Homo sapiens: one gene and its partners. The protein of the gene in region 1 interacts with the protein of each later gene in a biochemical or structural test. Each region holds a gene or a part of one and is shown in the gene's direction. Other genes may lie near its edges.

The links.
Region 2: the proteins of VAPA (region 1) and RMDN3 interact in a test that uses a peptide from one of them, tested with the Homo sapiens proteins (one study listed by BioGRID).
Region 3: the proteins of VAPA (region 1) and KCNB2 interact in a test that uses a peptide from one of them, tested with the Homo sapiens proteins (one study listed by BioGRID).
Region 4: the proteins of VAPA (region 1) and VAMP1 form a complex in vitro, tested with the Homo sapiens proteins (one study listed by BioGRID).

The regions. Positions count from the first base shown.
Region 1 is NC_000018.10:9,952,016-9,959,045, forward strand, and holds part of VAPA (vesicle-associated membrane protein-associated protein A), read left to right. Parts: intron 1-2,037; coding exon 2,038-2,196; 3' UTR 2,197-7,030. UniProt on the Homo sapiens protein: Endoplasmic reticulum (ER)-anchored protein that mediates the formation of contact sites between the ER and endosomes via interaction with FFAT motif-containing proteins such as STARD3 or WDR44.
Region 2 is NC_000015.10:40,738,248-40,745,277, reverse strand, and holds part of RMDN3 (regulator of microtubule dynamics protein 3), read left to right. Parts: intron 1-18; coding exon 19-301; intron 302-1,050; coding exon of another isoform or gene 1,051-1,128; coding exon 1,129-1,231; intron 1,232-5,084; coding exon 5,085-5,145; intron 5,146-6,701; coding exon 6,702-6,777; intron 6,778-7,030.
Region 3 is NC_000008.11:72,561,220-72,568,249, forward strand, and holds part of KCNB2 (potassium voltage-gated channel subfamily B member 2), read left to right. Parts: intron 1-6,422; 5' UTR 6,423-6,515; coding exon 6,516-7,030. UniProt on the Homo sapiens protein: Voltage-gated potassium channel that mediates transmembrane potassium transport in excitable membranes, primarily in the brain and smooth muscle cells.
Region 4 is NC_000012.12:6,461,730-6,467,700, reverse strand, and holds the end of VAMP1 (vesicle-associated membrane protein 1), read left to right. Parts: intron 1-596; exon of another isoform or gene 597-650; intron 651-1,349; coding exon 1,350-1,476; intron 1,477-1,700; coding exon 1,701-1,859; intron 1,860-2,759; coding exon 2,760-2,811; coding exon of another isoform or gene 2,812-2,825; exon of another isoform or gene 2,826-3,214; coding exon 3,215-3,231; 3' UTR 3,232-4,731; coding exon of another isoform or gene 4,732-4,742; 3' UTR 4,743-4,858; coding exon of another isoform or gene 4,859-4,869; 3' UTR 4,870-5,464; downstream 5,465-5,971. Other genes in the region: TAPBPL (tapasin-related protein isoform 1 precursor), read right to left, coding at 5,552-5,667. UniProt on the Homo sapiens protein: Involved in the targeting and/or fusion of transport vesicles to their target membrane.

The DNA.
Region 1 (7,030 bases):
TCCATAGTTCTGTTCTTTGATAAAGATGTGCTCCTTAGGGTGCTCAATAGATTTCTTTCAAAAGCCACTGTTTACCTCTGGCAGGGAGGGGAGAAGTGGAAACAGTGAGAATGACATAGATGGGGCAGGGCTGGAAAATAGGAAGAGTGAACCAGGGAAGTAGGTGAGAGAGACTTTATTCCTGGTTTCTACTCTTTTTATGCTAGTGTTCTGTATGAGATTTTATTTGAGAGATGATTCTGCTGCTGGAAAAGTAAAACAAAAAAGCTGGGCTGGGCGGGTGGCTCACACCGGTAATCCCAGCACTTTGGGAGGCTGAGGCGTGTGGATCACCTGAGGTCAGGAGTTCCAGACCAGCCTGGCCAACGTGGTGAAACCCCGTCTCTATTAAAAATACAAAAATTATCCGGGTGTGGTGGTGGGTGCCTGTAATCCCAGCTACTTGGGAGGCTGAGGCAGGAGAATCACTTGAACCCAGGAGGCAGAGGTTGCAGTGAGCGAGATCACGCCATTGTACTCCAGCCTGGGTGACGAGCAAAACATCGTCTCAAAAAAAAAAAAAAAACAAAACCCTTGAAGACCCACTGGCTTACAGAATTTCAGACCCTATACACAGGCCCACCATAATTTTTTGCCAGGTTCACTTTCTTGCTCCTGTCTGTTCACTATCCCTTTTAATTCCCCTAGCCCTGTGGTTCTTAATTCACACTGCATGTGAATCACCTAGTGAGCTTTAAAAAGTTACAGTTGACCAGGCTTGCCCCAGACCTAATGAGTCACAATCACAGGAGTATTAAAAGTTCTGTAGATGTTTGTGATGTGTAGCTGAAACTGAGAATTACTGTTTATATAGGACTAATTAGCATGAGACCAAAAAAACCCAACTCCAGAAAATCCAGTAATGCAAATAAAACTGTGCCATTAGGTGTACTCTTTTAGTTAGTGTTTATTTATAAGCACAATAAAGGAATCATGGGAGAAAATATTGCCTTGTACTGAAAAAAGTAAAAAACTGTCCTGCCATTTATCAGATTGGTTAACAGACAGAGATAAAGACAACTGTGTAGTTAACAGGTATTAGTATTTTTCCCAAGGTTCACATTGCACACAGTGTCATAACAACCTCCTGCTTGGAGTGACTTCTGCTTTCTTCTGAGAAACCTTCTGCTCTAAAGACATAGTGCTGTGTGAAGCCATATCAGCAAGAATGAAGCAGCCTACTCTTGACTGGAGGATCTAAGTCATTTTGACACAGAGAAGCACCCTCATTTTCCAGTCCAGGTGCAGAGCTTCAGATAAGGGTTTCCTATGTACATTTCTCATCTAAATTTGTAGTTTCTGAAGAAACAGTATTCTTTCTCTGCTTTGCAGTCGAGACCTGGTGCTACCACTTTACACACAGCCCTCTGCTTTGCTTTGAGCATATAAAAACACTGTTACTTAAATTTCACGCTAAACTGTTTCCTTCCCCCAAATTCTGTGATACCATATCTCTGTTTACGGCAAGAACACCCTTTTGTGCCTCTGCTGTTCCGGTTCCTTAGTTGCAGTGTGTCAGTAAACCCAAATGGCAGACTACAGGTCTGGGTAGTTTTTGGCTGATTGGGCTAGGACGGATGTAACTGATTTTAAATACCATGGGCCACCTTGGAAGTACTCTTCTTTAATTATATTTTTAGTGGGATTTAAAAAAAGGTAAATATAGCCTATCTAACTTTTGCTTTTTAGGAATACATTTCTCAGCTCCAGTTTTAAAAAATCAGTGTTATTGAGGTATAATTTATATCCCATGGAGACACCCACTGTGAGTGTACAATTCATTGATACATAGAACTTTGTAACCATCACTATAGTTCAGTTTTAGAATGTCTATCACCCCCGGAAAGTTTCCTTATGTGGTTAGCAGTTAATCCCCTTTTCCGTCCCCAGCCATAGGCAACCACTAATCTACTTTCCGTCCCTATAGATTTTTAGCTCCAGTAGTCTCGTTAGTATGCTTGTTTTTAAAAACCTTTTGTGTGTGTGTTTTTTTTCTAGGATGAAGGTTTAAGGCTCAGAAAGGTAGCACATTCGGATAAACCTGGATCAACCTCAACTGCATCCTTCAGAGATAATGTCACCAGTCCTCTTCCTTCACTTCTTGTTGTAATTGCAGCCATTTTCATTGGATTCTTTCTAGGGAAATTCATCTTGTAGAGTGAAGCATGCAGAGTGCTGTTTCTTTTTTTTTTTTTCTCTTGACCAGAAAAAGATTTGTTTACCTACCATTTCATTGGTAGTATGGCCCACGGTGACCATTTTTTTGTGTGTACAGCGTCATATAGGCTTTGCCTTTAATGATCTCTTACGGTTAGAAAACACAATAAAAACAAACTGTTCGGCTACTGGACAGGTTGTATATTACCAGATCATCACTAGCAGATGTCAGTTGCACATTGAGTCCTTTATGAAATTCATAAATAAAGAATTGTTCTTTCTTTGTGGTTTTAATAAGAGTTCAAGAATTGTTCAGAGTCTTGTAAATGTTATTTTAATAATCCCTTTAAATTTTATCTGTTGCTGTTACCTCTTGAAATATGATTTATTTAGATTGCTAATCCCACTCATTCAGGAAATGCCAAGAGGTATTCCTTGGGGAAATGGTGCCTCTTACAGTGTAAATTTTTCCTCCTTTACCTTTGCTAATATCATGGCAGAATTTTTCTTATCCCTTGTGAGGCAGTTGTTGACTGAGTTTTTCATCCTTACAATCCTGTCCCATGGTATTTAACATAAAAAAAAATAAAACTGTTAACAGATTCTTGCTCGATAGCTTGTTTGTGTCTGTCGTGTTATTAGAGGGAACTCCACTATATATGGTCACTTGAAATTATGATGCAAAGGTTTCTCTTGCATTGAAACCCTCTTGGATATTACAGTATTTTTAATTGAAAGTCCTAATTCTGTTAAGGAAAGGAGTTGATTAAATTTTAAGGTACCACTGGTATTTTGGGAGATTATAATCAGTTTGTTTTCAAGATAATAGAAAATAAGGTCCATGAGAATAGAAGTTATGTGATTTCAGTGAGTTGATGTGTACAGCATGGCTGTGCTCCATCTGATTTACCCCATTCTTAAGTTCTGAGAGTATGTTCTCAAGGAAGATTTAACTCTCTTTGGTTTTAAATTACTTTTTAACCAGCCTAATAAATAAGTCTTACTACTTTTCATAATATTTCATAATAGTTAAAAGTAGGTGTTTTTTTCGTGCTCAATTTGGCACTCAAAATAATGTTCATTATGGAAGTTTGGTAATACTGAGCAAGCCTGTGGAATTTTCTTTATGAAAAATGATTTTAGCCTTTGCAAATGTTAACCATGTGAAACACATTTTCAGTATAAGTATGCGTTACAGGGTTTGATACTTTCCTGCACTTAGGTTTGTCCTATTCTTCATTTATTCATACTAGGATAGAAAATTTTGGAATCAGAAAATAGATCCAGTGTTTAGCTACATACAATCTAGTACAAGTGAATTTTTATTCTTAAACATAGGTGTGTTGGCTCTTTTTTTAAAAGATGCGCTCTACCTGAAAAGGAAATTGGATTTTAGAACTGGATGTGGTGCAGTGAAGTATTTTAGGCCCAGGTCTGTGTACACATTTTATAGAAGAATGAAGTACTCTGAAGTATTTTGGTTGCCTTTTCATTTCAACTGTGTTTTGAATTTGTCAGATCACACATATATTGTGTTATTGGGCGCTGTGGTATCTTTTATAAAACCTCTTGCTTGTGTGCAAAAGTTCCTAAAAGGAAACACAAGTAATGCCTATCCATTACTAGCATGCTATGCTGCATGCTTTACTGCCATTGCTGTATGCTTTACTGTCTTTGTAAAAATCCCCCTCTCCCCTTTTCTGGTAACTGGAAAAGCATGCTAAAAATAGTCTTATATTTTCACCCCATAAATGCAGAATCAGTAATTCCTTGGCTTAAAGCTCTTATATAATCAATATTATTGGTGGTAAATACCAAGTTTGGTATCTCATAGCTATCTTTTTTTAAAGAAATTAAGTTCTTGAAAATTTAGCCAAATCCCGTTTTATGGGAATGCTCTTTAGAATTCATTTTGTTCAGCCCCTTTGTTCTATGGTTGAGAAATCTGAGGCCTTACGAAGGTTAAGAGAACTTTCCCCGTGTCTCACAGGTAGGTAGAGGCAGAGCTGGAACTAGATATCTGGTCTGTTGACTCTAGCTCAGTGTCTTCTGGTAACTGTTGAAAATTGTCTTAGTTTGAGAGATGGCTGAAATAATGAACATAAAATGCTATTTATAATAACAAGTATATGTGAAATTTCTTATTGTAAGACTACTACCGGCTTACTGTTGAATAGTTTGGTTATAGTGTTTAGGCTAGAAATGCCTCCCACATTGGTAATAAACATTACAAAATACAATGTATTTTTAGGTAGGCATTTTATAAAATGCATTATGCCATGGTTGCTTTTGAGATAGATTGTAGTCTGGGTAGCATCTTTAAAATGTATGTGGGCTTAACTGTTGTTCATATCAGGAGATGCTCTGATTGTATAGGTGAGACTCTGTTTCTGTTATTTTTAATTGCTGTATGAAATGTGATCAGATTATTTTACTACCAACAGTTATAGTTTGAAAGTCCAACTGTATTAATTGACTGATAATATGATAATATAGAGATTAAATTGTTTGTCTTCATTCCTTATATGTTTAGAAGTTTTTGCTTTGTCTGCCTGCTTACTTGTATATGTAAGCATGAGGGAAATACACTGTTGCTAATACTGAAATTACAATCAAGTAACTAAGGCCTTGAGTTCATATGTGACACTGAATGCACTAGCTTCCTTCGTTCTATAACTAATGTACCTTAACTTCCCCCATTCTTATATTTACAAGAAGCTAAGTCATTATGTTCTGAGTGTGTGGTATGTTCCCTTAAAAAAAAATGACACTTGGAAGAAAAATGTATGAAATTCAGAAATTCCGATCAAAGAAAAGTAATTCTTTCTTTTTTTTTTTGAGACAGAGTCTTGCTTTGTTGCCCAGGCTGGAGGGCAGTGGTGTGATCTCACCTCACTGCAGCTTCCGCCTCCTGGGTTCAAGTGATTCTCATGGCTCAGCCGCCTGAGTAGCTGGGATTACAGGTGTGAGCCAACAAGCCCGGCTAATTTTTGTATTTTTAGTAGAGACAAGGTTTCACCATGTTGGTCAGGCTGGGCTCAAACTCCTGAATCCGCCTGCCTCGGCCTCCCAAAGTGCTGGGATTACAGGTGTGAGCTGCCGCACCCAGCCAAGAAAAATAATACTCTTAAATACTTAGATGTTCACCTAAAGTTGATATTATTTGGTATGGGAATTACTTTTGAACTGTAATCTTTCAGATTACACCACTTTGAAAACAAGTTTTAACAGTAGGGTAAAAATATAGTTTTTGAGGGTATTCCCAACTTGTGATCTTCTACCACTTTAGAGACATTCAAGTAATAGTTTTCTTAGAGCTTTGCACATTCCTATTCACTGAGATTTTAAAAATTTCACCTTTATTCGAGGGAAGGATCAATGCTTATTACCATTTGGAAAAACGAAGATCAGAAGGTAAATGATCTTTATTTTCTAGCTTTAAAGGGAAATTAAACCATTCATGAATAAACTTTAAAAATGTGAAGTGTCCTTTTCCTTTTCACAATACAAAAAAAATTTCAACAGATTGTGTGGTTTGTGCATTTATATCCTGTTAAGCATTAATAGCTAATCACTGGGACTTGAATTCTGATGGCAGATAGTCTCTTGCTTAGTGAGATGGAGTTAACTATTTTTTAGTAGGAAGTGAGAACAGCTGATTTTCATGCCACGTTTCATAGCCCCACTTTTGGTAGACTACCACCACGCTTCTTCGCGTAAGCAGTGGCATCTTGGGAATGAATGCCCAGCCGCTCGTGGGTTGGTGCAAAGAAGTATAAACATATATCACTAAGGAAAAAGAAAGTTTGTCTTGCCCTTCTGACACAGTGTGTGCACTTCAGGCAATTTTTGGAAAATATAAAAAATTCCAAATTCTGCCTTTCAGCAGCATCAATTGCTAGGAACATTTCATTCATTTCCCTGTAATATTAATGTTCTTTAAGCATAATCACTAATTATAAGTTGTATCCTATTTTTTTCCAGCTTAATTTCTGTGGTTTATTGAAAACCAAGTATAAATGTGACTAAAAGCATTTTGCTTTGTTTTTATAGTTAACTTTCTTAAGGTTATGGACATTTTATAATGTAACATTTGATTGGCCTGGCCTCTTGACAATTCCCTTCTAGTTATGCATATCCTCCTGTTGCCACATTTCTTGTTTTAAAACTCAGTTTCTTGTTTTCCAGTTGTTGCTATGTATAACACCCATCTTGAAAGAGAGTATATAGGAAGTTATTCAGATAACTTTTGTAGTAGTGATATTCAACTATAGCAGTACCTTAACTCATGATGAGCTTAGGAACATAAAAGATAATTGTTGCTTGAATAGCACCCCCAGAGATACTGACCTAATTGGTCTGGGGTGGAGATCTGGCATGGTAGTTTTTTTCAAGCTCCAATCATCGGCCAGACAGTTGCTTTATGTAGGTTTTTAAATGCCAAAGGCAGATATGAAGTAGATTTAATTAAGACTTGACTTCAGCAATACAGGGGAACTTAAAATACTTATTTTTCTTTAAACTGCAGGAGTCACTGTTAGGTATTGCTTAAAAAAAATTGCATAAAAGCTTTGCTTGTCAAGTTAGGATTGCTGGAATACCACTAAAGATTTTTGACTTGTGAATAAATGAGCTGTCATCGCAAAAAGGCGATTTGAGAAATGTGGGCTTCAGTATTAATTGCCATTTTGCTGACACCCAGTGTACCTACCTACCTGAGAAATTTATTTTGTCCATCATGTATTTCTCAAAGCAAAAGGTGGTTTTCAAGTATAATGTCGTTTTCAACATGCTTATTACTTAGTTTTACGTCAGCTCATTTCATCATCATTGA
Region 2 (7,030 bases), on another chromosome or scaffold:
CTTACATTTCTCTGCCAGTTACACAACAGCCAATGCGGAGTCTGACAATGAGCGGGACTCTGACAAAGAAAGTGAGGACGGGGAAGATGAAGTGAGCTGTGAGACTGTGAAGATGGGGAGAAAGGATTCTCTTGACTTGGAGGAAGAGGCAGCTTCAGGTGCCTCCAGTGCCCTGGAGGCTGGAGGTTCCTCAGGCTTGGAGGATGTGCTGCCCCTCCTGCAGCAGGCCGACGAGCTGCACAGGGGTGATGAGCAAGGCAAGCGGGAGGGCTTCCAGCTGCTGCTCAACAACAAGCTGGTGGTGAGGCTCCAGCTGCCTGTCTCCTTCTCCTTCCCTCCCTCCCTCCATCTCTCTGTTCCTGACCCCTGGGGAATGAAGGCCCGTGTGGTTACTGCCCCTACAAGGTGACATGGGACGAGAAATGGTGAGACAGCTGGTTTTGCATCTGTCCCCCAGGTCACATATCCTCTTCCAAGGAGGCCCAGCGTGGATCCTAGGGCCAGTGTACTGCTTGCCCCAGAGCTGCCTCCCCTCTTGGGAGGGGGAGTGTAGTTCTCTGCTTTCTGTAGAGCTACTGCAGAAAGAGCTCTACCTCTCACCTCTAGGGGGAAATGTGGAAAGAACTGTATTTTTTTTTTCTCCTCATTTCCCTTGAGGCAGAGTCCAAGCTGCCAGCCCCATTACAAGCGACAACTGTGTAGGTCACTCAACCATAATTCTCTTGTCAGGTTCACTGACAGAATATATGCCCACCCAGGTATAAATGCCCCCCCCCCAGAAGTTAGAAGTTTCCCTTTTCCTTTCACACTTTCTTCATGTGTCAGCAAAAGACCTCTCGTGCCTTATGACATCTTGGAGTTGACCTTTCCTCCCAGCAGTTCTAGGAGGTCAGAATGCCCTCACCCCGTAATTGTGCAAGCTACTGGCTAGACAGAGAATGTGTCATACATTAACTGCACGTGGGAAGGGATGACTGGGGGGAAGGCTGCGTGTAGGAGCTGGCCTGATATTGATGACTGTAACATACTAGCTTGGAAATTCAAACCTAGGGTGTGGGGGAAGGCCAAGGCCCCCATTCTCCACAGTTGAGGAAAAAGGGGCCTCACCCGTTTCTGTCTGGTCTGCAGTATGGAAGCCGGCAGGACTTTCTCTGGCGCCTGGCCCGAGCCTACAGTGACATGTGTGAGCTCACTGAGGAGGTGAGCGAGAAGAAGTCATATGCCCTAGATGGTAAGTGCTGACAGCTTCCTGTGGGAAGGTGACTGACTGATTCAGGGGTGGGGCTGGCCCATCTGCCTGGGGACCCGGGGAACCACCAAGATGCTGTCAGCAGTTGTGGCTCAGTTACCCACTAGGGACAAACTCTGGCTCCCAAAGACCCTTGCTTTCTCCTCTGGAAGAAGAGAGCAGTCTTTGCTTATCTGTATATCATGCTGATTAGTAACACACGTGCATGTGTTTCTAGGAGTAGTTGTATCCTATCAATGTTATTCGTTTTTCTCACTCTAGCCACAGAGGGCAAAACCTTTTTTCTTAACCTGAGGTTTTTTGCTGCTGCTTAGAAATCTGGTTTCAGTTTTCTGAGCTGGTGGGGCAGGTGTTCTAAGAATATAGCTAGCTTAGAAGACTCTGGAATCCACTTGGCAAGTCTGTTGGCAAAGGCTCCACCCTGGAGGATAGGGTGCATCTGACCTGTGCCAGGCTCAGGGCTTGGCCTTATCTGTCATGAGGTCAGAGAATGCTTGGACTTTAGAGACTGATGTGTCCTGCTGAACTCCACACACTGAGTCAGGTACCATCAATGGGTAATGGGTTTCTAGGTCTGTGGTTCAGTTAATATCTATTTTTTTTTTTTTTTTAAACAGTCTTTCTCTGTTGCCCAGGCTGGAGTTCAGTGGCCTGATCTCGGCTGACTGCAACCTCCACCTCCTGGGCTCAAGCAATTCTCCTGCCTCAGCCTCCCCAGTAGCTGGGATTACAAGCACATGCCATCATACCCGACTAAGTCTTGTATTTTTAGCAGAGATGGGGTTTCGCCATGTTGGCTAGGCTGGTCTTGAACTCCTGGCCTCAACTGATTCACCCACCTAGGCCTCCCAAAGTGCTGGGATAACAGGCATAAACCACTGTGCCTGGCCAGTTAACTGTCTAAAATGGATTTGTCTACCTTTCTATTGTAAGTACAGCCTTACAAATATTATTGAATCCTTGATAATGTATACTCAAACAGTACCTCAAAGTTAACATTCTAAACATTTGTAGAATTCTGTCAATGGAGAAAGAACAGACCAATTGAGTAGGATGTCTCTGTAGACCCTCAGAAAAATTCCTGGAAGTTTTAACAAAAGATGCTTATTTATGATTACTTTTTCTCTCCAAAAGTTTGTTTTCCCTCCTAAATTTCAGATGAGGATTCTCAGCTTTTGGGCTGATTTTTGGACTCTTCATGTCAACAACCTTTCCTTTCCCTCTTGATCATTGGTCATCTCTTATTAGTGCTAGTAGCCAGCATGAACCCCAAAGACAGAAGTGGAGGCAGTGGTTAGCAGGGCAGCACTTGGTTGGTCTGGCCTCCTGAGCTTAGCACCCATGGACAAAGCTTTACCTGCTGGAGGTCAGATGACTATGGAATGTCTTTGAAGGTTCTGCTCTGAGATCACAGCCTTTAAGAATTATCCTTACTGGGTATAAAGTTTATTTCATTGTATCTCTAGGAGCTGGACCACCAGGAGGCAGTCATTCTGTGGGGTCTCAGGCAATGTCTTGTCTACAACACTGTCTGTCTAGCTTGGCAGGAACTAGTTGTCTCATTCTTTGCTATTATTTTCCTAGTGAGACAGTACTTTGAAGAGGGCAGAGAGAAATCCCCAAAGAGGCAGCGTCCCTCATTGGTGGGGCCATGTGGTCCCTCTCTTTGGGAAGAGAGGTAGAGTCTTTCACAGCATCAGTTGTCTTAAGAATGCATTTGTGGCCAGGTGTGGTGGCTCATGCCTATAATCCTAGCACTTTGGGAGGCCAAGGCAGGAGGATTGCTTGAGCCCAGGAGTTAGAGACTAGCCTGGGCAATATAGTGAGACCTTGTCTCTACAAAAAAAAAAAAAAAAACTTAAAAAATTAGCCAGGCATGGTGGTGGAACATGCCAGCAGGAGGATTGTTTCAGCCCAGGAGGCAGAGGTTGTAGTGAACTGAGATTGCACCACTGCACTCCAGCCTGGGCAACAGAGAGAGACCCTGTCTCAAATAAAAAAAGGAAAACATTTCAGATTAGCCAGTTTACCACCTCAATGCATTACATTTGTTCCATTTTCTCCATGTTCCCTTCCAAACTTGTTTTCTTCAAAGAATTCTTGGCTGGGCACGGTGGTTCGCACCTGTAATCACAGCACTTTGGGAGGCTGAGGTGGGCGCATCACCTGAGGTCAGGAGTTTGAGACCAGCCTGGCCAACAAGGCAAAACTGTCTCTACTAAAAATACAAAAATTAGCCAGGTGTGGTGGCACACACCTGTAATCCCAGCTACTCGGGAGGCTGACGCAGGAGAATCACTTGAACCTGGAGGCGGAGGTTGCGGTGAGCCTAGATCGTGCTATTGCACTCCAGCCTGGACGACAGAGTGAGACTCTTGTCTCAAAAAAAAAAAAAAAAAAAAAAAAAATCCTATGTTGCAGTGTCTTCTCCAGTGCATAGGCATGATGGTCCTTATCTGGTGGTCCGTAAGCTCCAGCCTCGATACTCTTAAGTGACGCTTGTCAGAACTTTCATGTTTATGGGCTTTCATTTCTTTGTTAGAACACTAACCTAGAAAACTCGGGTAAGACTAAGTGAACGTCATCTCTGGTCAGACCTCAGTCCATGTGGCTCTTGTGAAAGAGTTTTGGCCTAGAGCTAATTAATATTGTTGGATCGTGGATCCTTTTGAGAATTTTTTTTTTTAAAGAGATGGGGTCTGCCTATGTTGCCCAGATTGGTCTTGAACTCTTGGTCCCAAGCTATCCTCTCCTTGGCCTCTCAAAGTTCTAGGATTACAGGTGTGAGCCAATGTACCCATCCCCTTTAGGGAATTTTTTCAAAGCTGTGATCTCTCTCCCCACTTACTTAAATTTTATACAACTTGAGATTCATGGACACTGCCCCTCCAGAGTAAGGTCTGTTGGGGACAATTTCTGATTGTGTTGGATCCGTTGTTGTTGTTTTTTTTGAGGTGGAGTTCGTCGCCCAGGCTGGAGTGCAGTGGTGCAATCTTGGCTCGTTGCAACTTCTGCCTCCCAGGTTCAAGTGATTCTCCTGCCTCAGCCTCCTGGGGAGCTGGGACTACAGGATGTGCCAACATGCCTGGCTAATTTTATATTTTTAGTAGAGGCAGGGTTTCACCATGTTGCTCAGGCTTGTCTCAAACACTTGGCCTCAAGTGATCCACCCACCTCGGCCTTCCAAAGTGCTAGGATTACAGGCATAAGCCATCGTGCCTGGCTGGATCCTTTTATATTTTAAATGCTAAAATCTGCTTCAAGCACATCAGGTGGGCATTATAAAAAGAAGGTAACTGGGGTTTCTAATGACAGATGGGGAAGCCAAGGTGAAGCAGAAGTCATCCCTGAAGTCTTCCCTTAGAAGCCGTTTGCAGCCTTTTCTGAGACAGTCTTGCTCTGTCACCTAGTCTGGAGTGCAGTGGTGCAATCTCGGCTCACTGCAACCTCTGCCTCCTGGGTTCAAGCGATTCTCCTGCCTCAGCCTTTTGAGTAGCTGGGACTACAGGCGCCTGCCACCACGCCCAGCTAATTTTTGTATTTTTGGTAGAGATGGGGTTTCACTGTGTTGGCCAGGCTGGTCTCCGACTCCTGACCTCAGGCGCTCTACCCGCCTCAGCCTCCCAAAGTGCTGGGATTACACAGCACAGAGGCGTGAGCCACTGTGACTGGCTTCTTTGCGGCCTTTCATTCTGCTCAAGTTCACAACTATTTCCAAACAAGTCCAAGCTGGGTAGGGATTGGTGAGAGCTAAAGCAGTCATTCTTCCCACAAGCCTTCCTATGAAAGTGTGCATAAGAGCTATGTCAACTCTGGATCTACCTTCGTCCTACAGGAAAAGAAGAAGCAGAGGCTGCTCTGGAGAAGGGGGATGAGAGTGCTGACTGTCACCTGTGGTAATAACACCCTGCAGTGTTCTGGGAAGAGCCAGCAAGGGCCAAAGCAGAGGACAGCCCTTTCTTTTCTCTGCCTGGGCCACAGAGGCATTTTCCAAAGGATCCAGGAGAGGGAGTTCTGGCTTGTATCTCCACATGCCTCAGTCTACCCCTAGCCAGAGACAAGGGAAGTTTCTGGTAGGGGAGGTGGCTTAGGGATGAGGCAAGCGGGGAATACAAGCTTTTTTTCTGATGGGGCTTGGAGAAATGAGTAGCTTTGTTAAGAGTCATCCTAGCTACAAAACTGGAGTTCTTGGCTCTCAGGAGGCTGGGACAATCTGCAGCTCCCCTATCCTGCATAAGCTCTTCTTTCCCCTGCGTGTGATCCCTGGCTGCTGGTACTTTGGCTTCTTTGCTTGGTTCATGTGAGGAAAAGTAGATGTGAGCTCACCCCCCAGAAGTTTAGTGGTCAATTTATTAGGCTGCAAAAACATCAGCCCTTTTTGTGGTCTCATGTGAGGCAAAGTTCTGTCAGCTTACCTGGGCCACGGCTAACTCATATCCTGGGGTCTGGTTCCAGCACCTGAGTTTTAGTGAAAATGTTCCTTTCCTTTCCCACCGCCACCCTTGCTTTCCATGTCTCCACCCTCAGACTGTGAGCTAAGTGAGAGGCTGTGTTTCTCCATCTGTTGCTGAAACTTTTGTCTCTGCAAGGGTTCTTCTCAGAGGCCAGGTAACTGTTTCTTGGGTGTCACTGCTTCCCTGGGCTTCCAAGGATGAACAGCTATTCCTGAGGAACAGCTGTTTGGATTAAACATGGAAATGAGCCTCTAGAAGTATCTGATACCCCCCGGATACTTAGCATATACATGAAAAAGCAACTTGGGCTGGTTACTCATCGAATGTCAACTGTGCTGCTAGGAACAATGCTGGGGGGATGGGGAAGTAAGACTTTGTTTCTGAAGACAGATGATGGGAAGCTGGCTGGCTGGTTCCCTTTGGGAGGGGGGATGTGGGGGAGAAGGCATATATAGGAGGTCTTTCTTCCTCTGGTTCTGTTGGTTTCCAAGTAACATCAGAAATTCCTAGAATATCCCCTCCCAATGTGACTATCCTAAGAAATTGCTTCCCAAGTCCCAGTGATACACCTGTATGCTTAAAGGCTAATGAGACCCACTTTTTTGTCTGCCCAGAAGATAAGTAGTATAGTCAGGTCTCATACTTTTATGCTGATTGTTTTCATGCTTTTCAAGTTTTTATTAATGCCTGTGGCTGTACTCCTTATGAGTGTAGGAGAGATTTACTGTGTAAGAGAGATTTACTGTGGTGAACCCAGCTTTTTTTATACCTAGAATACTTTGGAGACTTGTAAGCCTACCATTATCTACTAAAGAATACTAATTGGGGCCAGAGGTCCGTAAAGAATGGGGATTACGTACAGATGAAAATTAGGTATTTTCAGCTCTAGTTGAGGGTACAGGGATAGGGGACAATGCAACTAGGCTGTGGTTGGGGCATCCATTCCTTGCAGTGATGGTACTCAGCCCTTGTCCCTGAGCTTGCTGCTTCCCCCCTAGGTATGCGGTGCTTTGTGGTCAGCTGGCTGAGCATGAGAGCATCCAGAGGCGCATCCAGAGTGGCTTTAGCTTCAAGGTGAGGACAGGCTTTTCCTCCTTCCTTGTGCTGGCCTATCCCAGATTCCCCACTCCTTTCCAGCTCCCTGCCAAAAACTTTTCTACAGCCTCAGTGACTTGCCTTTCTTCTTTTTTTTTGAGACAGAGTCTCACTCTATCGCCCAAGCTGGAGTGCAGTGGTGTGATCTTGGCTCACTGCAACCTCCTGGGTTCAAGCGATTCTCCTGCCTCAGCCTCCCAAGTAGCTGGGATTACAGGCATGTACCACCATG
Region 3 (7,030 bases), on another chromosome or scaffold:
AATCTCGGCTCATTGCAACCTCTGCCTCCCAGGTTCTGGCAATTCTCCTGCCTCAGCCTCCTGAGTAGCTGGGACTACAGGTGTGCGCCACCACTCCCAGATAATTTTTGTATTTTTTGTAGAGATGGGGTTTCACCACTTTGGCCAGGATGGTCTCGATCTCTTGACCTCATAATCTGCCCACCTTGGCCTCCCAAAAAAGTTCTATTTTTTTTTTAAACTAAGGAGTATATAGTTGTGCTAAATTTGAGGAACAAAATGATATTAGCAGCCTTTGATTGCAGAAAAGAAATGTCACCTTCCACTTTCTAAGGACAAGGACAGCATTTCAGTTATTTCTAGAACTTTATGTGTTAAAAAATAATAAGCAGTATGAAATTTATTAAATATTTCTGACCAGGTTCTAAAGTAATGCAGGTTGCAGGTTTGTTGAATTTCTTAGAATAGCTGAAAATTTCCAGGATCTTACTTTTATATATATATATATATATATATATATATATATATATCTATATCTATATATATATGTATATATATATATGGATATATATATATATGGATATATATATACATATATATATATATGAATGATAGTTTTTAACTTGCTATAATGTTATTGGTTTTTATTAGTAAATTTTGGAGGTGCTTTCAAAAATTGCAGCCAACAATAGAATTAAAAAATATACATTGATTTAATCTTCAGCTAACAGTTACAATGCCTTTCTCTTCAGATATCTACTGCAAATCATCTTGTGGTTCTTTGAAACATAGTTTCTACAGAAACTTACTACTTAATGCTATACATGAAAATTTAAGAAAATGCCTTAGAGCTATATATGGAGTGATACAGACTTAAAGGTCTCAGAGATGTTTGTTTGCAGTGCCTGCTCAGCATGTTCTAGCAACACAAAAATGAAATGTTAAACATCACTTACAACTTTAGAAAGGTTTGCTTTTTATCTTCACAGGATCGCACATGTGACTTACCCTGCCTGGCTCCATGAAGGAAGTGTCAAGTGTATGACATAATGCTAGTATTTTTGAGACTACAGTAAACCCCACTCCCCCTCCAAACCTGGAGCCTCAAGCTGTAATTAGGATGCCATGATGAGAAAGTTGTGTTTTGTCAGTTTTGGCCCTGAGCGGGTGGCAGCATAATGCCACGCTGCTGTAGAAGCAGGGTGCAGCCGTGCAAAACTCAAATGTTTGTTGTTGTTTATTGTTTACAGAGCTGCTTTTTTTTCTCTAGAAGACTAATGAAGGGATGGTGAGTACATTTGCACTGGCTGACTGATTGTAGCAAGCTTAACTTTCAATTGATTGAATGAGGTGAAATAAATCAACAAACTGCCAAGAGAAAATATTCACTAAGATTTTGCCCTTGACATGAAAACATGTGTTCTGAGGTCTCAAACAAAAGTGCCTTCTGTTTATACTGACAATTTATGTTTATAAATTATTCACAGTTGCATAATATCTACACAATTTAAGCATTGAATTATTGCATTTTATATTATACTTATATACAGAATTGAACTACATGATTAATTTTATGGGGTAAAAAATCATTATGATAGACATAAATTCACTTATGAAAGTATATGTGAGAAAATGTAACATCATATACACTTTAATTACGGAAATTAAAAACATAAATTTTGTGAACACTCTAGGGTCGTAAAACACAATACCCTTACCCACAGGGAACTGGCAGATTCATTGCTAGAAGTAAAATTAATATGGCAGAAAAGGACATAAATTTAAAATGAAAAGTTAAAGGATAGAAAATCAACTAAACACTAAATAAAATAAATGAAACATTCATGATGTTCTGAAGGTAGTTTGTTTCAAGCCATGATAAATATTAAAGTAAAGGTTCTTGAAATGAAATATGAAAACCACCTTCCTCAAGAAACTAGACATGGAAAATGTTTCATTGACTGTGAGGCAGCATGATAAGTTTATTTCTATCTAAAGTAAGGATGATGATTAGAGGGCATAGGGAGGTAAAAGGGGCAGAATCACAGTGAAAGGAAAAAATTAAGTGTCATAGGAAATAAAAGAATTTTAGGCATGGACATGCTACCACTTAATGGGTGAAGAAATTAAAGTTCAATTAGCAATTGAGGGCAATGTGGAACTGAGGTGTTCTGAGCCTCAGACAGAGCCCCTTTTATGATCCCATATGACCTCCAATTCTGTTTAGATGTTTTTATCTCCTGGAAGGTATTTTCAGCCTAGGAGGCCTCTGTATTAAGATTGGCTACAGAAAACTTAATGAAGTATGTACAAGTCTGAAAAAATAGTTTGGTTTTGTGCTTGTTTAAGTGGCTGTGAGGATAGAAAGATCTAGGGATCAGGACAGGAAAGGAGGGAAAGCAAAGGAAGAAAGGTAGCATGTGGCGTTAACAGACATGGGGGAAGGTAAGAGAAACCCACAGAAGAAGAGATAGAAGGGAAAATGGCAAGCAGGCAAGCAGAAAGGCTCAGTGAGTTTCAAAGGCACTGTTGATCAGGGCTGATGCTCTGCAGCTTGCATTTATTATGGGCTTATTCTGAAGGCTTGATTAACTTTTGGAACACTATTCACAGCTCTTCAACTGCTCAGGAACTTATGCCTTTGAGCCTGCACTCTTTATCAGGTAACAAGCAGAACATTCTGCCCAGGGAGAATAAAAAATCTTTTAACCATGGTAACAATAATAAGAGCAGATCATTTTTAAGTCTTAAGAAAATCAAATCAACAGGGAATTTTCTCACCCTTATTTTCTCTATCCCTGCTATGAAGAAAGGGCAGTGAATTTCAGTTTGTCTTTTATTGCGGGACTTGTAATCAACACTGGATCTCTTATAATAGAAAGTTCTTGATCAGTGAAGAAGATATTTTGAAAGTTAAGTCTTATGACCTCTCTTCTCTTGAGACACACACCCTACAAAAAGGAAAATTCACTATACACAATGCACATGAAATTATTTAAGACAAATAGTGACCTTACCAGTGACTATGATATAGCATTTCCTTTTTTAATGACTTTTTCAAAATAGCAAGTCACACCATGCCTTTGCCACAAACAAATGAGATATTTGTGTCATTCTGGAGTTAGTTCTCTTCCTGGAAAACCTCTTATCTGATATTATAATCAGTTAAAAAATGATTTATCTTCTTCATGTTAGTATAAAACATGGTGTTCAAAAAGAGTACATTTATTTTATTTTTATTTGTATTCAAATTCAAAATGCATCAGCTCACAGTTTATTTATGTGGACAATTCAATGATTGATTGTTGAGATGACAGTGTACCTACAACTAAGTTATTTAGTGGAGACTCCACATTCAGATTCATCACTGGAATTGCCCCATCTCTAATATTTTCGGCTGTTTTTGCCTCATCCTGATAGTGTTGCTCAATTTTTAACATATATATATAGTTCATCATCACCTGAATATAAAGTTAGGACATGAACATCAGTGGCGCCAAAGACAGATGCTATGAGGTGCCTGTTATGTGTGGGTTGAGGGCTCAGTAGAGAAAAGTTTGGACCCACAATCCCAGGCCTGCCTTTATAATTCAATGGGAAAGACAGAACATATATGTAAAGAGAAAACTTAAAAGCTAGAATTTATTTAATAGACACTAATATAGCTTTAATCTTAGTTTTCTTTCAGTGCTTGGAAACCAAACTTTAGGGAGAAATATGAATATTCTTACTCTATTCAGATATACCTCCTTGTAATGAGCATTTCACATAAACAATCTCATCTAATCATCATAATACTGTACATGAAATAGATACTATTATCTTTATTTTGTAGATTAGAAAATTCAAGCCCAGAGAATTTAAGTTGCTTAGTCAATCATTATAGAGCTTCTTATTTTTGTAAAGATAAGCATTTTTGTCATGTGTGATGAAAATGTGTGTGTATATATATATATATGCTTAAAATATTCCTGTAACTCTGTAGTTGAAAAAACTCCTGCTGCAAGTATATTTATTGGCCACATTTAAAGTACTTCTTATATAGTCCATCTACATTTTTCATTACCTTGACTTATATTCATTCAAGAGAATCTTTCGCCTCCAGAACAATAAATAAATTTAACTTGCAGGATGGAGAAGCCAGAGGCATGCAGAAATTGGTGTGTATCCTAGAAGAGAGTTCTAATTATAAGGACCTCTTAAATCTAATAGTTTTTCCCTTTAGTATAAGCTGTTGACTGTGTGAAACATGATGTTTTACATTAAAGGTGGTATTTTGGATGAATTGCTTGAAGCTCTATGATTTTCTGCAAAAACATTATAGGGGAAGATAACTAAGAAGATGCTTGCTGCTGCAGATCAGAATAACAGATCAATAAGAGGGACTACAAGAGCAGTAATGCTTTAAAGAATTAGCACACAGGAGAAAAGAGCCATGAAGCAGAATACACACACACACACACAACACACACACACACAACACACACACACATTCTGATGTATATTATATACACATAACATATAAACACAGATGCATTTTAAATAATTGATCCCAATAACTCCATTTTTGCATTTTCTGGCCACATATATTACTTTGGTCAGCTCTCTTGTGGAAAATAATTAAAGAATGGATTAACTGTTTAATATTTATTAAACTCCTACACTGTATAAGCACTGTGCTTGGTGATAGGAATGTAATAATAGAGAAGATGTTCTTTGTCCTCAAGAGTTCCCAGCATACTATGGGAAAGGTATGTTGCAATGGTATGGTGGAAGTTTCATGATCCCAGAGTGGGAATATTATGGAGAGCTTTCTCTAGAAGGTGAGGTTTGAGCTGAGTCTTGAAAAGCAAGTACTAGTTAGTCAGAAGGAAACAAGAAAAATGTTTCTAGAACACAGTATGGAAAGGCCAGGAGCTTAAAAGGGAATGTTGTGTGCAGTCTGGGATTGCTGGAATATAATGATGAGGGAAAGATGAAAAGTGAAGGTGGAGAGGAGGCTGGACCTACTAGGACTAACTAGGCTTTAAAGTGCTGGTAGGACTTCAAAAATAAAATTCCAATAATGATGACATTTTGCAGAGTTTAAAGCATGTGAGTGGCAAGGTCAAATTTGTATCTTAGCAGAGCATTCTAATAGCTATGTGGAGAATGGTTTTTAGGTGGACAAAACCCGAGTTTGGGATCCAATTTAAGGCTGTATTAGAAGTGTAGGCAAGGGCTGGGCACGGTGGCTCATGCCTGTAATCCCAGCACTTTGGGAGGCCAAGGCCAGCGGATTGCTTAAGCTTGGGAATTTCAGACCAGCCTGGGAAATATAGTGAGACCCTGTCTCTAAAAAAAAAAAAAAATACAAAAATTAGCCAGGCATGGTGGTGCAAGCCTGTAGTCCTAGCTTCTTGGAAAGCTGAGGTGAGAGGATCACTTGAGCCCAGGAGGCAGAAGTTGCAGTGAGCTGAGATTGTGCAGTGAGCTGAGATTGTGCCTGGGCTACAGAGTGAGACTCTATTTCAAAAAAAAAAAAAAAGAAAGAAAGGAAAAGAAGTCTAGGCAAGTAAGTGATGCTGAGAGTTCGAACCAGCATTGTGGTAATGGGAACCTTGGTAACAGTGTTGGAGGCCTTAAGCAATGGTTAGGAGCTATAATTGGTAAGACTTGGTGCTTATTTGGATGTGGATGGATGGATCAGGATTTCACAGAGTTTTAGTGAGGGTGACCGGGTATGGGGTGGGGAAGGCCGTAAATCTGAGACGGAGAATGATCAGGAACTGGTTGGGCAGACTGGCACCTTGGTCAGTTTAGCTTAAGATGTCTGTGGTTTATCTAGAAGGAGTTGATCAGGGTGAGGTGCAGCGGCTCACCCTGTAATCCCAGTACTTTGGAACGCTGAGGCAGGTGGATTGCTTGCACCTGGGAGGTCAAGACCAGCCTGGGCAACATGGAGAAACCCCATCTCTACAAAAAATATAAGAATTAGCCAGGTGTGGTGGCACGTCCCAGGTACCTGGGAGGCTGAGGTGGGAGGATCATCTGAGCCCAAGAGATCAAGGCTGCAGTGAGCTGTGATGGTGCCACTGCATTCCAGCCTGTGTCACAGAGAGAGACCTGTCTCAAAAAAAAGAGTTGATCAAGCACATGGATCTTTTAGTCTGCAGCTTGAGAAAGAGGTCTCTCATGACATGTTTGGGAGTTGCCAGCCTATAGGTATATATCACTGAATACACAACCTCTTCTGTGTAGTACACTGTGTTGTCTTTTCCCCCTTTCCTATATCCTAAAGCAAAGACACATATCTCCAAAAGTATGTAGACATTAATATTGTACCTTCTGGTTGTATTCAGTCGTTAATATTGTACCTTCTGGTTGTTACAACAGAATGATCCCATAGAACAGAAACACTCTAGGAAAATGCAAGTAACCAAGTGATTGTTGCTTTCTTCCAGCTTTGTCAGTGGAAATGCCTGCCCCAGAGGGATATTGCTTCAGTTGACCTCATTTTTTAAGGACCCTGGCTCTGCGGCTTTGTCCAGTTCAAAATGGCAGAAAAGGCTCCCCCGGGCTTAAACAGGAAGACTTCAAGGTCGACACTTTCCCTTCCTCCAGAGCCTGTGGACATTATCCGGAGCAAAACATGCTCCAGGAGAGTTAAGATCAATGTGGGGGGCCTCAACCACGAAGTCCTGTGGAGAACGCTGGACAGGCTGCCCAGGACGCGCCTGGGGAAGCTTCGAGACTGCAACACACACGAGAGCCTCCTGGAAGTGTGCGACGACTATAATCTGAACGAGAACGAGTATTTCTTTGATCGGCATCCAGGAGCCTTCACTTCCATTTTAAATTTCTACCGGACCGGGAAACTCCATATGATGGAAGAAATGTGTGCACTTTCGTTTGGCCAAGAACTTGATTACTGGGGGATTGATGAGATCTACTTGGAGTCCTGCTGCCAGGCCAGATATCATCAAAAAAAAGAACAAATGAACGAAGAACTGAGGCGAGAGGCAGAGACTATGCGAGAGCGAGAAGGAGAAGAGTTTGATAATACCTGCTG
Region 4 (5,971 bases), on another chromosome or scaffold:
GGCTGCTATGAAGGCTTCTGACATGGCCTGGAGACATTTTCCCCATGGTCTTAGGGGCTAACACTAGGTTCCTTGCTACTTATGCAAATTTCTGCAGCTGCCTTGAATTTCTTCTCAAAAAAATGGTTTTTTTCTTTAGTACTGCGTCTTTTCTTCTGCCAGATACCCTAAATTATCTCTCTCAAGTTCAAAGTTCCACAAATTTCTAGGGCAGGGGCAAAATGCTGCCAGTCTTTTTGCCAAAACATAACAAGAGTCACCTTTGCTTCAGTTCCCAACAAGTTCCTCATCTCCATCTGAGACCACCTCAGCCTGGACCTTATTGTTCATATCACTAACAGCATTTTTGTCAAAGCCATTCAACAAGTCTCTAGGAGGTTCCAAACTTTCCCGCATTTTCCTGTCTTCTTCTGAGCCCTCCAAACTGTTCCATCCTCTCCCTGTTAACCCAGTTCCAAAGTCGCTTCCACATTTTTGGGTATCTTTTCAGCAACACCCCACTCTACTGGTACCAATTTACTGTATTAGTCTGTTTTCATGCTGCTGATAAAGACATACCCAAGACTGGGAAGAAAAAGAGGTTTAATTGGACTTACAGTTCCACATGGCTGGGAAGGCCTCAGAATCATGGCGGCAGGTGAAAGGCACTTCTTACATGGCAGCAGCAAGAGAAAATGTGGAAGAAGCAAAAGCAGAAACCACTGATAAACCCATCAGATCTCATGAGACTTCGTCACTATCACCAGAATAGCACCGGAAAGATGGGCCCCATGATTCAGTTACCTCCCCTGAGTCCCTCCCACAACATGTGGGAATTCTGGGTGATACAATTGAAGTTGAGATTTGGGTGGGGACACAGCCAAACCATATCAGCGGGGAAATGCCATTTAGGACAAGGCTAGGCCATATGTCCCTGTAGCCATCATGGCAGAGGACTTGTTTGAGTTGAGTCAAAGGATAGCCCCAGATGAGATGTCTTGATGCCATCCTGGATGTCCCTGAACCCCATCCAAATGTTGTTGCAGAGTCTTTCATCTTTTACTTCTTGCCTCTATGGTTTGTCTCCCTACTTCAGATTGCCAAGGAGCAAGAATCCATTCTAGTTTTGTATAGCCTAATCATAATTGTTTAAGTGGTTTGGGGTGAGGATGCATGTGAGTCCTTTCTTTTTGTCTGTTTTTTTAGAGATGGGGTCTCGCTATGATGCCCAGGCTGGCCTCGAACTCCTGGGCTCAAGCGCTCCTCCCACTTCAGCCTCTTGAGTAGCTGGGACTACAGGTGTGTGCTACCACGCCCAGCTCCTTTCTTGTCTTGGTCACTTTGTGTACTCTGCACATGTCTTTCCACAGGTCTGCTCCAGCTCAGCCACCTGCTGAAGGGACAGAAGGGACTGCCCCAGGTGGGGGTCCCCCTGGCCCTCCTCCTAACATGACCAGTAACAGACGACTACAGCAAACCCAGGCACAAGTGGAGGAGGTAGGTAGATAGCTGTTTCTCTGAAAGTTTCCAAATCTAGGAGTTTGGAAACAAAAGGGAACTTCTTATCTTTTCTCCTTTTTTCGTAGGAGAATAGTCAAAGGCCCTGAGAGGCAAAGCACCCTTTAGAGTTGCACAGGGCCAGACTTGTGATTCTCTGGTTGTTGTCCTTTCCTCTGTCTCTGGCAGGAAGCTTAGCTGCTTTGTTTCTGTGCCCTCCTCAGGTGGTGGACATCATACGTGTGAACGTGGACAAGGTCCTGGAGAGGGACCAGAAGCTGTCAGAGCTGGATGACCGAGCTGATGCCTTGCAGGCAGGAGCATCACAATTTGAGAGCAGTGCTGCCAAGCTAAAGAGGAAGTATTGGTGGAAAAACTGCAAGGTGAATTTTCTTGTCCCCTCCTCCATCTTTTCCTGGGCTTCCACTGGTAGAAGGCAAGAAAACCCTCAGCTTCTACATTTCTTCCCTCTAATGGTGCAGGATCTCTCTGACCAGCATAACGCTTGGGAGGAAATCTGGAAAGCCTCCTCTTGAGATTGCATTACCCAGAATTGGCCACCAGGGTAGGCTAGAGTATTTAGAACCGCTATCAGGGAAAAAGTGATACCCTGAGGAGTTTGGAATGGTTAGTTAAGGAGCTTTACCCCAAAGGAGTTGCCTGCAAAAAATTTCACCTGTCTCATCCTCAGACACACCCAACATCAGCACAATGGCTCAGGCATATATACATACACACACACACACACACACACACACTATATATACACATATGTATATATACATATATATACATTTATATATATATATACATATATATACATTTATATATATATATACATATATATACATTTATATATATATATACTTTTTTCTTTTTCTTTTAAATCAGCTTTCTCAGATTGAAATATATATTTTTAAATAACTGCAACTTTTGAGAATGAGCTGAACACTTCACAGTGAAAATTGAACTAATTGGTTAAATATCCAGAGTCTGTATCTCTATTGGAATGCCTTCTAAAGCCCCAAGACACCAGGAACTAAGCAAAAAGGAGCTCAATGCAGGTCCTGTGATGAATCTGAAAAGCTACAGACATACTGTGGTTATGATCCCCTGGGAAGCAGAAGGGTAGGGCCTCTCTAAGAGGCCTGCAGGTCTCCTGGGTGATGGGTGGTTTTTTCCATTGTCCCAAGGATGGAAGGAATTCTGTTTCCCACTAGAGATGTGGCTCTTTTCCTCATTCCTGAAATCCAAGGGCTCATTTTTTGTCCATGTTTCCTCAGATGATGATCATGCTGGGAGCCATCTGTGCCATCATCGTGGTAGTTATTGTAAGTAAGTATCGCTGAAGTTGCTGGTGGGGTGAAGAGGTGGGAAGGTCCTGGAGTCTTCTCCCTGCCTGCCTGCCTGCCTGGGGAGTGGGGCTGCTCTGACTGAGGTATGGAGACCGCTGCTATGGGATCGTCACCTGGTTCGGGACGGGGGAAGGGCAGAGACAAGGGATTTCTTTGATGGACAAGCCTTCCCCCTGCAACGCATTGCAGGGAGATGGCGCCTCCTGTTCTGAGGAAGTGGGGCTATGCTGTGTGTCACTGGCTTGGGTTGGAGGGAGACCATGGGGATGGGGCACTTAACAATGGAGAGACCTGAATGTCTGGTAACTTGGTGTAATTCACCCTCTTGTTTTCTCCTGTCTCTTTCTCTTTTCCGTCTGGGACTTCCTGATTCCTGTGTCCAGTCTACTTTTTTACTTGAGAATGTACCACCCCTTCCCTGTTGTCCATTGCCATCCACATTCATGTCCTCTGCCCTCTGTTTGCTCTCTCAACACACTTCCCCACCCACCGTCCTCCATTCCAGCCCAGGCTTCTCCATCACCCATTCCTCCTTTTTCGTTGCGTTCATTTGCACTCTGTCCCTCAACACTAGAAATGCTGCTCGTGGCACAATCTAAGTCATTACCCGAAGAGCAACAGCTGGCGCCTCCTCCCTGCCTGCTTTTTCTGTACTCTCAAGTTCCCCCAAAGCCCCAAAGAGTTGGAGGCCAAGGGAAGGGGCAGGGAGGGGAGTGGCTGAGGCGAAGTACCCATGAAGCTGCCCAGACTTGGGAGGAGAAGAGTATCGGTGCCCATGGTGACTTCTAGAAAACCTGGCCACTGGTAGGAGCTAGGGAGGGGCTGGGAAGATGGCAGCTCACTCAGTACTGCCTGGTCATGTGGAGCTTTCCTTCCTGGACCAGGCCTGAAGAGGGTCCTGGGGGTGGACCAAAGTCCAACTTGGTTTCAGTGCAGTACCCTTTTCGAAAGTAAAAACTTGTTTTTTGTAGTTATTTCTAATCTGTTCGTCCAGGATTTTCCGTGTCTTTGGGGATCTTACAACTTTACTTTGTTCTCCAGAGGCCTGGAGAACACTTAGGGATTGTGAAAATAGCAGGACTTGTTTCCATCCTAGAAGCAGTCCCATGTGCTTCTAGCTGGAAGGAGCTTTCTCTTCTTTACATTTTCTACAGCATTCTGTATGAGGGCACCAAATAAATCCATCTAGCTGGTAGTTTTATCTAGCCAAATAATTTAACCTAGCTCCCAGTTAATTGTTGGCATAAAGAGAGAGATTGCCTGTTAGTTATAGAGAAACAGTGAGTCAAGTGCTTAATTTGAAAGTAACAAGCTCAGAGGAAGCCACTCCTTGCCCTCGTTAAAGAGGGTCCTGTTCCTCTCTTCCTGTTGATGAAGGAGCGTGAGGGTGTTAGCAGTGTGAGATCTTTGGACACCCATGGAATCCTTTCCTCCACACCACCCGTGCACTTGCCAAAGACAGGGATGAGGCAAGTGGTTCTTCCTGGGGCCCGGCCGATCCTCAGGATGCAGAGAAGTCATGTAGACCCACCAGCCCCACCTTGGGGGGAGGCGTGCCAGCCTGTGTCAGGTGTGCTTGTGTATTGCTGTGCTGTCATGGGGCCCTCTCCTTGAGAGCCGCCTCTCTGTTCTTCCTGTAGTATATTCCCCTTTGAACCACCCTTTCCTGTCTGAATTCTACTTTGCCTCCTTTCTCTTCCTCCTCTTTGCATGGTTTGTGTGTATAGACAGTGGAACCTGAGGATGGGATCTGCTCAGCCTATCTTCGGGGCAATTGCTGAGCTTCAGGATGGGCTATTAATGTGGGATAAGCCCAGGTGCAAGGGGAGGAGGGCAGGCTGGGAACAGAGCGGAGAATGCCCATGGCCCTTTATTCCTTCTTCCCTCGGTCCACGAACAGGAAGAGGCTGAGGCCATGCTGGGCAGGGTCTGGATGCCCACTTTCCATGCAGCAGCATTTCATTGCTCAAAACCATCCTTCCTTTCCTTTCGCCCTTGTTTCCCACATTCCCTTCGTCCTGCCCAAGGGCGGGACTGAAGAGCTGGAAGAAAGCAGTCAGTACCCTCCCAACGGCCCCCCTCGAAGGTCTCCACTCTCCTCTGGGCTCCTCCTTGCCTAATGCAGGGGGTCACCGCTGGAGAAGAACCACCACTGTCCTCGATGTGTCCCAAGCCTGGAGCGAATCCGTCCTCTTGGCTCTCCCAGCCCTATCACAGGAATCATTCCTGGGTTTCTGTCCCTCTGAGGCTCACCAGGTGTAGTTGGCCTTGTTCTTTGGGGGTATTAGCCCTTCTACTTTCTTTCTCACCCACCCTGTACCCTCTTCTGTGTGTCTCTGCTATCCCCCTTTCCTCCCACCACCCATGTGCATGAGCAAATGTGCAACAAAACCCTGGGACTTTGCAGTCAAATGAAGCTGAGCTTCCCACATCCCGTTCTTCGGTTTGCCATGAGACGATGTGGGGTTTCCACTGTGTGTCTGTCATCACCTCTTTGTCTTTTTTTCCTAACCCTGATCTCATACTTGTATAGAGTAATAACAACAGTTGTACTTCCACCAAAGGCATGTGGCATATTTACCAATGTCATGTATTCTGAACAAAGGCAAAAAATACAAATTCCTACCATTAAACTGGCTTGGTTGTTGTTTGGGTTGGAGTAGCTGTGGGGGCTTGGGGAAGGGTGTCGTTTCTTTCTAGTAGTCTCATGTCGCTTTAGGTCAGCTGGGCTGGCTTACACGCGCTGTGCGGTCTTCATGGAGATGGGAGCTCTGTGTGTCAGCACAGGAAGTGGTCTCCCAGCGTTCAGCCTGAAGCAGCCCAAGTCCTGTAGGTGCTGGTAAGAGGAAGTGAAGACAGGAAGTTGCGTGGGCATCTCACACTGGCAAACAAGCACAGGTTCCCTCAGGCCTCTTCCATCTGCCTCCTGTGCTCCTTCCTAGGTCCTTGGCCTGCTTGTCCTGTCCCAGGGGATGTGCCCAGATAAGGCTGTCAGTGAACACCCCCTTACCCCCTTTTCCCCATCATCCTCACGTACAGTTTTGGTATGCTGAGTTCCACCGTATTGATTAGGCACATTTTAGAAACGAATAAAAAGGAGAAGTCTCTCCTTGCAGCTGAGGGAGTGAGGCATTTGCAGG